Regions from separate parts of the Homo sapiens genome. Here regions 1 and 3 are each linked to region 2. Evidence: fine-mapped expression QTL. A gene starts in region 2. Each other region holds a variant in brackets. All regions are shown on one strand. Distances are from middle to middle.

Region 1 (4,244 bases), 33 kb after region 2:
GGGGTAGAGACTGCTTTGCCTTTCCATTTTCTTGAGACTGCTACCGCTTGTGGTCCTCCAACAACTAAATCTCATCCCCCATGAGGTGACAAAGATAAACAACCCATCTGGGGAAGCCAGGCAACCTGAAAGAGAAAAACCACTTAGAATAAACAATATATTGAGTTAGCTAAATAGAAATGCTGGAGGAGGCTGGGCACGGTGGCTCACGCCTGTAATCCCAGCACTTTGGTAGGCCGAGGCGGGCGGATCACGAGGTCAGGAGATCGAGACCATCCTGGCTAACATGGGGAAACCCCATCTCTACTAAAAAAAGATACAAAAAATTAGCCGGGCGCGGTGGTGGGCGCCTGTAGTCCCAGTTACTCAGGAGGTTGAAGCAGGAGAATCACTTGAACCCAGGAGGCAGAGGTTGCAGTGAGCCGAGATCGCGCCACTCCCTTTAGCCTGGGTGACAGAGCGAGACTCCATCTTTAAAAAAAAAAAAAAAATGCTGGAGGAGAGAGAAACTTGAACATGAAAATAATAATGGGCCACATTTAAGACTTTATGGAACAAAAAATGTGATTTTTCCACCTAAATAATTATTATCACCTGACTCCATTTATCCTCACACACTTATTTTTTTTAAAACTATCTCTGCTAGAGTGTAAGCACCAGGAGAACAGGAACTTTTTTGTCTTGTATTCACTGCTAATCTGTTGTCAACTCTAATACCTAGAACACTGTCTTACACATAGTAGGCGCCCGAAACATAATTATTGAATAAAGGAATGAATGAGTATGAACAATTATTGACCTGGAAGATCAAGTAAAATAAATATTTCAAAGCATGGAGCCAAAAAAAAAATACAAAAAAAAAAAACTTTTAAAAAAGAGACCTATTGGATCGATTCAGGACACCTAACATGGCTAATACAAGTTCCAGAAGAAGAAAAAGGAACAAATGGAGAAGGAATAATTAAACAACATAAAATTATTTCCTGAGCTAAAGACTTCAGTGTGCAGAATGAAGTTCTGGGGGAGATCAGTGATGAAAAACACATACATAGGGATATCCTTGTAAAATTTTTGAGCTCCAAGGATTCACCTTGGAGGCTTCCAGATAGAACAGGTTGCACCTATCAAGTAACAGACTGGAATCAGAATTCTAATTCACAACACTGGAAACTAGGAGATGGTAGAAGAGTATTTACAGATTGGGGATTTCACAATCCCAAATCCCTATTTCCCTTGAAGATATTTCTCCCCTATGAGGGGAAACATGTTACAACTATACAAAAATTTCAAGGATATAATACCCACTTAACTCCTCTGAGAAAATTCAAGAAGGGGTTTTAGCCAAATAACAAGTGACCTAGAACAGAGATCACATGATGAAAGGGATAGAAATAATGGAAAATGACAGACTCTTTGGGAATGTATTATGTAAATGCTAAGTAAGGTTTTTAACCAAAGGATGCATAGTTCAGAGAACAATAATATTTACAATGTGATAAGTAAGTCAGGGCAGAACCTCAAAACTGTGGGAACAAAAGGAAGTAACAGCTTTCCAATTAAGGTGAGGAGAGGAAAAAGCACCAATATGTACATGAAAAGATGCTCAACATCATTAGTTATTAAAGAAATACACATCAAAACCAAAATGAGGTACAGTTTTTTCACACTCACTGGGATGGCTATAAACAAAAAGACAGATATCAAGTGTTGGAAAGGATGTGAAGTATTGAAACTCTCATCTGCTACTAGTGACAATGTAAAATAGTACAACTACTTTGGAAAACAATTTGACAGTTTCTTAAAAAGTTAAACATAGAATTACCATATGTCCCAGTAATTAAGTGTATTTCCACACAAAAACTTGTACAGGAATGTTTATAGCAGCATTATAAATAATAGCTAATAAAGAAGTAACAGCCCAAATGTCCTCCAGCTGACAAATGAATAGATAAAATGTGATATAGCCATATAATGGAATATTATTTGGCAATAAAAACAAAGTACTGATTCCTGCTATAACATGTGTGAAGCTTGAAAATGCAAGTTAAGGAATCTAGTTGCAAAAAA[C/A]CCCAAACACATACTGTATGATTCCATTCGTAGGAAATGTCCAGAATAGGTAAATTTATAGAGGCAGAAGTTAGATTAATGGTCGTTTAGTCTGGATAGGGTTGGGGAGAGTGAGATGGGGATTAGCCTGCTGATGGGTAGAGGGTTTCTTTTAGTGGGGAGACAAAAATGTAAAATTAGATTGTGGTGACAGCTACACAACAGTGTGACTATATTAAGAAACACTGAACACTTTGAGTGAATTATATGGTGTTGTCTTAGTATGTTTCATGCTGCTATAACAATACCACAGACTGGGTAATTTATAATGAATTGAAATTTATTGACTCGTGGTTCTGGAGGCTGGAAAGTCCAAGACCAAGGTGCCAGCATCTGCTGAGGGCCTTCTTGCTGCATCTTCCCATGGCAGAGGGCAGAGAGGGTAAGAGGGAGTGAGAGAGAAGGGGACCAAACTCCCTATTTTGTTACAAACTCTCTTGATAATGACATTAATCCATTGTTGAGGGTGGCTTAATTACCTAATGGCCTAATTACCTCTAATTAGTCCCCCACCTCCCAGTGATGTTGCATTGGGGATTAAGTTTCCAACAGATGCTTTTGGGAGGATATATTCAAACCATGGCAGGTCTGTAGTTTATGTTTCAAAATGTATTTTTTTTAAAGAGGAACTAGTGTTGATAATACACAGCAGCTTGCATGAATCTGCAAGGCATTAGGCTCAATGAAAAAAAGGCAGTCTCAAAAGTTTATATATGATTCCATTTATATTTTCTAAATTATTGAAGATCATGACACATTTACTATTCAAAGTATACACACTAAAAACAATGTTTTTAAAAAATTCCAGAATACAGTATATATAATAATAGTTTCTAGTTTAATGTCTGGGTTTAAAACTTTAGGAAATGTTATGTTCAGCCTACATTAAGCAGTTAACCTTTGACTGTAACATGAAATCAATATAGGCTCTTAAAATATTGGAAATGTTCACAGTAGTCTCTTAGTCCCCCTAATTCCCCTTTTAACTCCTTAGTTCCTAATTTGTTGTTTAGGCCAATTTTCTCCCCTTCTTGTTAAGAAGATAGTCTCTTATGGTCATGTTTATTTTTCCAAAACCATCTTTAAAATGAAAATGTGAAATATGTTTCCACAGTGCATGAAAAATAATTTGGATCATCCACAAGACCAAAGAATGACATAATCTTTTTTTTTTTTTTTTTTTTTTTGAGACAGGGTCTCCCTTCTCCCGTCTGTCACCCAGGCTGAAGTGCAGTGTCATGATTATGGCTCATTGCAGCCTCAGCCTCCTGGGCTCAAGCAATCCTCTCACCTCAGCCTCCCAAGTAGCTGGGACTATAGACATCCACTACTACGCCAGGCTAATTTTTAATTTTTTTGTAGAGACAAATCTCCCTGTGTTGCCCAGGCTGGTCTTGAACTCCTAGGCCCAAGCAATCATCCCACCTCCACCTCCGGAAGTGCCAAGATTATAGGCATGAGCCACTGTGTCACCCAGGCTGGAGTGCAGTGGCACAATCTCAGCTTACTGCAACCTCCGCCTCCTGGGTTCAAGCAATTCTTTTACCTCAGCCTCCCGAGTAGCTGGGATTACAGGCTCCCGCCACCACACCTGGCTAATTTTTGTATTTTTGTAGAAATGGGGTTTCACCATGTTGGACAGGCTGGTCTCAAACTCCTGACCTCAAGTGATCCACCCGCCTCGGCCTCCCAAAGTGTCAGGATTGCAGGCATGAGCCACCACACCTGGCTAGCCCATAATCTTCTTTATACATAATTTTCTTCAGTAATATTTGCAACAGCCTCAAGATCCATCCTCCTTTGTTATTTCTTAGTAAGTTTTTTTTCTTCTTTTTTAACTGTGTAGGTACAGTCCTCTTGTATCATTTATACTTTTCTTGACTGACCAGTTTGTGGATTTGGCCCAATAAACTCTCTTTATATTATACTTTGGCCTTTATTAAATCTACTGTCTGGTATTACTCTCACCATCTTCTCAGTGTTATAGGCTGAGAAGAAAATTACAACCATAGGTTGTATAAGTTATAGGCTGTGAATTAGAAGTATAACTATCTTCATCACTGCTGAGTTCTTCAACTTCTAGTGGATTTATCTCCACATATTTGGAAGAATTTCAACACAACTTAATCTAATGTATT
Region 2 (4,244 bases):
AGGGATAGTATATTGGAATTAGGTGGTACATATAAGTAAATGCAGATACACTGGTAGGAAATTGGGTTTCATAAAAATTCTGTGTTTCTTTATAAAGGAAAAGTCTGAAGTTTGAATGAACGGCAGGCCTGCCTGAGGAAAAAATTGATCCTGCTGAGGATGGATGAAAGCTGTGGGCCTGAATCAAGAAACCCAGACTTTATAAAGAGTCAAACTTTAGGAGGTTTACACTTTACATTAGGATTTCTCATTTTGTTACCAGGATCTTTTTAACCTTTTTGATCCTTTAATCCTTGAAAGGATTTGGACTTTGTGTGTCATTTGATAAAAGAGAACTTCCGGGAATACAGTTCCCATTGCTAGGAGTGCTGCTTAAACATAACCACTTGTGAGGAGCCAAGACCCCAGGCAAAACCGGGGGCCAGTTTCTGGGCCCAGGTGATTGTTAAATTTAGAGGTCTTGATCACAGCTATAGGAAATAGCTTTTCAAACAAAACATTGGTGAGTCAGAATTTATCGAACACCACCATTTATACATTAAATAAACACTAAGAAAAAATATTCTAGCGACAAATGTAGTGGTGAAAACATGGAATGGATTTGAGAAAATACATCAACGTCTTCTCCAGGTATAAAAAAACGTATTATTTAGTGGAACTTTCAGTCTGACTAGAAAGTGGACATAGCATTTATTAAAAGGACAAGAACAACAACAAAAAATTAAAGTAGGACAAATGTGTTTAAGGTACTTTATAGTTTTATTTTTATTTATTTATTTCTTTGAGACGGAGTTTTGCTCTTGTCCCCCCAGGCTGGAATGCAATGGTGCGTTCTCGGCTCACTGCAACCTCCGCCTCCCAAGCTCAAGCGATTCTCCTGCCTCAGTCTAAGGAATAGCTGGGATTACAGGCACACGCCACCACGCCCGGCTAATTTTTGAATTTTTGGTAGAGACGGGGTTTCGCTATGCTGGCCAGGCTGGTCTGGAACTCCTGAGCTCAGGTGATCGATCACGCCCGCCTCAGCCTCCCAAAGTGCTAGGATTACAGTCGTGAACCACCGCGCCAGGCCTACTTTATAGTTTTAATTTTTTTTTTTTACATAAAAGTGGTTTATTTGTATGTAGACCTCTACATAAAAATTACAATGAGGGTTATTCCCAGGTATAGGAGCGGTGTTTCTGGTTAAAGAAATCATGAATGATGTTTTCAGAGACACTCATGAAAGAGAAATGGCTCCCCGGGTTCTGAGGGTGAGGAGCAGCGCCCGCCCTCTAGGATGCTTCCAGAGTGAGTGTGCAGCACAGCCGGACCGAGGAAAAGGATTATTCCCCTCTTCACGCGGGTCGGGCCGTGCCCTGGACTACAGCTCCCGTCGTGCCCCTGGCCACTCGTATTCGGCCCCGCCCCGCCTGCCGTGTCCCGCGGCGAGCGCAGGCGCGCTGCACTCGGTCACCGCGGGCTGCGGCGGCTGGGCGGGGCTTTCGGGCGCCCGCGGGACGGTTCCGCCCTCTCACTGCACCCCCGGGCTTCTCTTCGCAAGGTTCACCTCGAATGAGGAACAAGCGGGGAGGGAAGGGAAGGGCTGCGGCGGCGCGGGCGCACCCCGTCGGGCCCGGGGCTGGGGGAGGCCAGGTCACGTAACTGCTGCTCTGGCGTCGGGCCGGGGAGGGGGCGCCAGCCCCGGCAGCGCGAACCCTGCGCGCGCCGCGGCTCTGAAACAGTTACCGGCTAGTAAACAACAGCTGCGCGCGCACCCGCATCAGCTGGCGCCGGGATACTGCACCTGCGACCTCCTTCTCCCTCACCCTGCTGCCCAGTCAGGCCAGCCTGCGTGGCCGTCTCCTCCTCTACTGGGACCCTGAGGAAGAACGACGAGGGGGTGACCTGCGCCGGGGCGGGGGTAGGGGAGAACGCGCCTCCGGCAAAGGGGGTGGCTCGTCCTGTCACACGCAGGAGAAACCTAGCGAGCGGACCGTGGCTCAGTGGACTAGCTACGACTTGCCACGACTCTGAGCTGCAGTCCGAGGTGTCTTGATCCGCTAACCTCCTCCCAGACCCCGAGGACCTTTCTGCTAGGAGAAGAGCGGGCGCGCCACCCCCACCGACCTCTCGGAGACAGGAATCCGCTCTGCCCCTGCATCCTCCTCTGCTCACCCTTCTCTCAGTAGTGTGGGTTATTTTTCCCGTTATGCATGTGCACCTTTCCCACCAGACCCAAGTGGATTGTCGACATCAAAAACACCGGGTGGCTTTGCATACACCTCCCCCCAGCCAGACCTGTGGGGTATTCACCTGATACACAACAGGTGGCCGGGTGTACACCTTTTAGCAATCTGATCCACGCTATAGTCGCCTGATAAAGGTTTGCCTGCACGCACTTCGCCCAACTAGAACCGTGGGACACTCACCAGATAAAGGACTACCTCGACAGGAAACTGGGGGCTGAGGGGAGGGAGGCTTCATCTGCTGCCCTGAGACCATGGCACTGAGCCTTCAGCCCCGGACCAGAGGGGTTAGCTAGGTAGCTCTTCATTCTGAAGGAAAGAAGTCACACAAGATTGGCATTGTTTTGTCTTTTTGTTTTTTGTTTTTTTCTCTCTTAAAAAATATATTCACCTATTGGTGATGCACTTTCTAGGACAGTCGGCTTGAATTCTGAGTAGAAGTATTCTTAGTTGGGGCTTTTTGTGTGGTGTGAATCAAGGTTATTGAAATGTGTTATTTTTCAAGTTATCTTTTGTATTGCAGTCAAAAGTAGCTAGCGTAAGAGGAAGATTTTGCGAGGTTCCCCCCACTTTTTTTGTTCTTAAAAAGAACAAAATGCATCCTCCAGAAACCACCACCAAGATGGCTTCAGTTCGGTTCATGGTGACACCGACAAAGATCGATGACATTCCAGGTTTGTCAGACACCAGTCCGGACCTCAGCTCTCGATCTAGTTCCCGAGTAAGATTTAGCTCCCGGGAAAGCGTGCCTGAAACAAGCCGGAGTGAGCCTATGAGTGAGATGTCTGGGGCCACCACTTCGCTGGCAACTGTTGCACTGGATCCACCCAGTGACCGGACTTCTCACCCCCAGGATGTCATCGAGGGTAAGTAGAAACACAGACCGCAGCATACTTTCATTACTGGGTTCTTTATCCAAGATGACCATCTATGGATCTGGAAGATCATAATCATATAATTATGATTATAATAGTCATCAGGAACCAAGGCATCTCTTTGTGAGATGCTTAGGAACTCTTTGGAATAATAGCATAGTGGCTCTTTGCAGTAGTAATTTGGTATGTGGGAAGGTGTATGACAAGAAGGAAGGCAAATGTATATTTTAACTTCCTCATTTTTGTCTTCTTAGAAATGAAATGGGTATTTTGGTTAAAAGTGAATATCAAAGAATGTAATCGTTTTCAGCACACAGAATCCTAAATTTTAAAATTTAGTGAGTTGGATATGTGTTCTGTAGCCATCATTGGCTATTTCAGTCTGCTTTAAGACTGGTTTCATGGAGTAGTTACTGGTCGTATCTTAGCAGCTTTCCTCCAAGACTTCGAATGTGTATTGCAAAATTCTTTTTTGAAATCTGTATTTTTATGGAGACCTTGACACAAGTAGCTAAGCCCACTCAGGGTGATGGTGGGTAGACCTAATGTGCTATTCTGTCAAATGGAAGACTTCTGAAAAGGCTTTTAGGGCCTGATTCCCATGTAATTTATTCTCTCTGAGCTTTAGATGGAAAGTCTGATGATTAGAGTTAGCAGGTAGCACACAAGCCACTCCTGGCTCATGTTGACTGCTACAGACCTTTAGCTTCCTAAACCAGTTTGTGTGTGTCAGCTGGCTTGGTTTTATTTGAGGTACTGGGAAGAGGTGATGGAAGAGAGAGAAGAGAGAAAATGGGGAGATCATAACATTTTTTGGACTCTGAAATTTAAAAGTTTGAGACCTGTACTGCTTTATATATTTAGTTTTATGCTGTGTTGTAACTAATGTAATCTTTTAATGATAAAAATTTCCCTTAAAGACTCTTAAAATAATATTCCACCCAAGTTTGAAAACCATAGCCTCACCCACTGACTTGTGAAAGCAAGGCTTACTCACCATTTTCCGGTGTCAGGAAATATTGTTCCTTTTAACCTAAAGGGTTCAGGAAACCAGAATGATTTTAGTTCCCTAATTCTGTTTGTGTTTTTAGTATCTGGAGACAAGGTAGATTTGGTAAAGTTTACAGTCCTAGAATTCACT
Region 3 (4,244 bases), 120 kb after region 2:
CTTCAATCAGTTTCGATATAAAGCATTGTTTTATAACCTGAGTTTGTTTTGTTTCGTCTTTCTGAGATGGAGTTTTGCTCTTGTTGCCCAGGCTGGAGTGCAATGGCACCATCTTGACTCACTGCAACCTCCGCCTCCCAGGTTCAAGCCATTCTCCTGCCTCAGCCTCCTGAGTAGCTGGGATTACAGGCATTGCCACATGCCTGGCTAATTTTTTGTATTTTTAGTAGAGACAAGGTTTCACCATGTTAGCCAGGCTGGTCTTGAACTCCTGACCTCAGGTGATCCACCCACCTCGGCCTCCCAAAGTGCTGGGATTACAGGTGTGAGCCACCACACCTGGCCATAACCTGAGTCTTTTAAAGGAAGATTGTTATGGACTGATTGTTTGTGTCCTCCCAGAAATCATATGGGATGATCCTAATCCTCTATGGGATGGTATTTAGAGATAGAGCCTTTGGGAAGTAATTAGAGTTAAATGAGGTAATGAGGGTGGATGTCTCATGATAGCATTGCCCTTATAAGACACCCAAGAGCTCTCTGCCAAGGCCAGGGAGCATTACTGCCTGAGCTCTGCCTCCCATGAGATCAAGGAGGGGGCATTAGATTCTTTAGGAGCTCAAACCCTATTATGAACTGTGCATGTGAGGGATCTAGGTTGTGTATTCCTTATGTCTTAATGCCTGATGATCTGAGATGAAACAGTTTCATCCTGAAACCACCCTCCCTGCCCAGCTCACATTTGTGGAAAAATTGTCTTCCATAAAATTGGTCCTTGGTGCCAAAAATGTTCAGGACCACTGGTTTAAAGCACCCAGTATTTTGTTATGGCAACCCAAGCAGAATAATACAAGGATGAAATGAAATTCAGAAGAGTTGGAGAACAATAGGTATCTTTTAATGTTTGAAAGATAAATAAAGCTATTCCTTAAAACATGTACATAAATGTAGAGTTGTTTAATTTGCTCATTATGTAAATAGGAATGTACTAAACACTGTCTATTGACTTGCTTTTTTTACTTAATCTATTTTGGATATCTTCCATGTCTATCATGCAGATCTACCTTATTCTTTTTCAAGGCTGCAGAATGTAGATGTGAGATAATTTAATTAGTCCCAAATTGATAGACATTCAGCTTGTTCCCATTTTTCGCTATTACAAAAAAATGTTGCTGTGAACATCGTTGGGCACTTGTCAACACATTTCTGTAGGACAGTGATAAAATTAGGATCTCTTCCCACAGTTTTATACAGTTAAAATGTTGATGGGTTCAAATAATAGGCTCTCTAAAATGTACTGATTTACAGTTCTAAGGGTTTATTGATTAAATCATTGCTAGAGTCTTTCAGTGAATTGAATAATTTCCTCCCCACCCCCAAATTCGTATCCACCCAGAGTCTCACATCAGATCTTTGCAATGAAGGTCTTGGCTGATACATTGGTTAAGATGAGGTCATACTGGATTACAGTGAGACCTAAATCTGATGACTATAGCATCCTTATATGAAGAGGTCACACAGACACATAGGGAAGAAGGCCATGTGATGAATGGAGACAGATTGGAATGATGCAGCTACAAGCCGAGGAAGCTAGGAAGAGGAGGCAAAGGATTATTCCCTAGACCTTCAGAGGGCGCATGGTCCTGTTCCGGAGGCTGTTTGGACTTCTAGCCTCTGGAACTGTGAGATAATATACTTCTGTTGGTTTAAGCTATTCAGTTTGTGGTACTTTGTCACAGCGACCCTAAGAAACAAATACGTCTCTTTCTAAAAGAGAGTCCATTCAGATGTATTAAGGGTTAGCTTAAGGAGAAAATGATAACAATAAAATAATAACAGGTAAAATAATATTGCCATAGTTACAGAATTAAATCCTAAACTTTAAAACATTTACATGAAAAGTCGTTTTTTTTGTTTTTTTCCTGAGACAGAGTCTCGCTCTGTCGCCCAGGCTGCAGTGCAGCGGCACGATCTGAGCTCACTGCAA[C/G]CTCCGCCTCCCGGGTTCACGCCATTCTCCTGCCTCAGCCTCCCAAGTAGCTGGGACTACAGGCGTCCACCACCACGCCCAGCTAATTTTTTGTATTTTCAGTAGAGACGGGGTTTCACCGTGTTAGCCAGGATGGTCTTGATCTCCTGACCTCGTGATCCGCCCGCCTCGGCCTCCCAAAGTGCTGGGATTACAGGCGTGAGCCACCACGCTCGGCCCACAAAAAGTTTTACTTAATTTCCTAATTGCTATGATTGGTTTCTTTAATAAAATGGTTTTAAAAAGTAACTTTAATTTAAAAGCAACACATTTATTATATAAATGAGAAATACAAATAGGCAAAAAAGATAACCAACAAATCCTATCATGCCAAAGAAAAAACCTTTCATGAGCATTTTGATTTAGATGTTTTCAGACTTTAAAAATTAATATTTAGACTTATTTAATACTGTATACTGTTTTATAAGATGCTATTTCATGAAGAGCGGTATTTTTACTTTTTAGAAAAGGCACAGGAAAAAGAATGAGTACATTTTTATTTCGGTTTTTTAAAATGTTTCTTATAGCTCTGCCAGATTTTCAGGCCTGTTGCTTTCATCCAGCCCTGATCATGAGGCACCATGCCTAATCCAGCTTCCACAGTCCTCTCCTCCCAGCCTACTGCTGCAGCCATACCCTATTCTCCAGGACCTGGACTAGTCCTGACACTCTTCTTAGATAAGAATAATTCTTAATAGTATTTGTGTTCTCCCATTTAAAGGATTAAGCGTTCAGATAAGTTTAGGAAACACTGCATGTATCTTTCTTTAAAAATTGACAACAAATGTTAGGTTTTTAAAGACCGAGAAGTGCTACAGTAAAGAAATATTTGTTTACTTCAGCAGTTACCAAACTTCTGTGGCCAAGGAAACCACTTTCTTCTTTTTCTCTTCTTTTTTGAACCTATCAACATCTCTTAGAACTGATGTCCTGAAGAACACAGAGCTAAGTTGGGGAAGTAACTCAAGCCAGTTTAGGTTCAGGCTCAATTGTGTTACTGCAAGAGCGGTTCTGCCTTTGTGTCTGGCTCCAAGAAGTGTCTTAGTAATCTTTCTACTGCTCCTGTCTCTTGAGGCTAGGGACCTGCTTTGCTCTTTTAAGTCCTCTTCCCAAGGACTTTCTGCTTCTGATGATTGTTGCCCTGCTAACTGCTAGCGCATTTTATTTCCTGCTTGCCTGCTCGCCAGGAACTCCTCTGTACTTCACCTGTTATGGGGTCCCAGTTGTACTGAACATCTCCCCTCCCCCCACCACCTCCACCAGCAACTGCATACATAATTGGATTTGTTTTGCATATGATAGGACTTTTCAGGTACCCTGTTCTGGTTACCAGGCCATCAGCATCACAGTGAGTCTGTTCCGTGCCTCCTGACCCCACCCCCAACATTGACACTTCACCCTCTCCTGCACCCTGACCCCCAGGTAGTCTAATTCCAGGACTTCCCTTTTCCAAGGCAGCAGTCAACCATATTGTATTCTTCTCTATCTTGGAAAAATCACTAAACTCAGTTTTTCAGAGAGAGACACAATCACTGCTCTAGGCATTGTTGTATATGTTTTATATAGGTTATCCCACTTCCCAACAGCCCCTGAGAGGAGAGTGTTATCCCCATTGCACATTAAGGTAAAAACCGGTGTAGAAACGGCCCAAAGGCAGCAATCTAGGTTTTAAATAGAGATGAGCCTTGCTCCAAGGCTAGTCTAACATGCTGCCCCCACCACGTTCCACCTGGTGACAGTATAGTCTAATTGCAGGAAATGTACTTGCAGGAGGAGAGAGATGGTTTCTTGAGATTCGGATTTGAAAGTCTATAAATACCAAATATTATCATAGTCATAAATGTTTTTGGGTCACCTGATCTCAGTTGTAGATTTACAATAGAGGGCTGTAGATGTAGCAGAAACAAGCTATCTTAAAAATAGGATCCCCCATCACTCAACACCTCCCTACCACCCACCCTTCACCCCGCAAAAAACACTACCAGGGGTTTTGTTTTGTTTTTTGGGTTTGTTTTTGTTTTTGTTTTTTTTGCTTACTGCTTCTGCCATTACTTCCTTCCACAGCCTGCAAAGGAAGGTAGGGAAGGGAGGAGCAGAAAAAAGGGATTGACTTCTCACTTTGACTGCTAAAGTCAACTGCCTAGAATTTTCCAAAGGTGCTGAGGCTGAGCAGTGTGGAATGGGTGAGCTGTTGCTGTCTTTTAGGTCCCTTCAGGCA

Direction of the effects. Positions count from the first base shown, and alleles are read on the strand shown. Sizes are in standard deviations (SD) of each study's normalised expression.
With allele C in place of A in region 1, the expression in fibroblasts of the gene that starts at base 1,723 in region 2 is higher (small effect, 0.26 SD a copy in GTEx).
In carriers of allele G in region 3, the expression in pancreas of the gene that starts at base 1,723 in region 2 tends to be lower than with C alone (small effect, 0.32 SD a copy in GTEx).

What was found. PIP is the estimated chance that this variant, and not a neighbour inherited with it, causes the effect.
Region 1: its variant is the best candidate, but not a certain one, in a credible set for the expression of SLC12A6 in fibroblasts (GTEx, PIP 0.55).
Region 3: its variant is the best candidate, but not a certain one, in a credible set for the expression of SLC12A6 in pancreas (GTEx, PIP 0.86).

The regions. Positions count from the first base shown.
Region 1 is chr15:34,302,007-34,306,250 of GRCh38, reverse strand. The region is part of intron 2 of SLC12A6 (solute carrier family 12 member 6); the gene reads left to right. Among named protein-coding and RNA genes, the nearest start is that of SLC12A6, 34 kb to the left of the region's middle. The variant C/A (reference allele first, on the strand shown) is at 2,068.
Region 2 is chr15:34,335,260-34,339,503 of GRCh38, reverse strand. It overlaps SLC12A6 (solute carrier family 12 member 6), which reads left to right and starts at 1,723. Exons shown (of 26, transcript NM_001365088.1): 1 at 1,723-2,172; 2 at 2,752-3,094. The coding sequence starts at 2,824. RefSeq lists a silencer at 1,309-1,868 and enhancers at 3,158-3,277, 3,479-3,548, 3,609-3,658.
Region 3 is chr15:34,213,375-34,217,618 of GRCh38, reverse strand. No RefSeq gene overlaps it. Among named protein-coding and RNA genes, the nearest start is that of KATNBL1, 5.4 kb to the right of the region's middle. RefSeq lists an enhancer at 2,980-3,575. The variant C/G (reference allele first, on the strand shown) is at 1,988.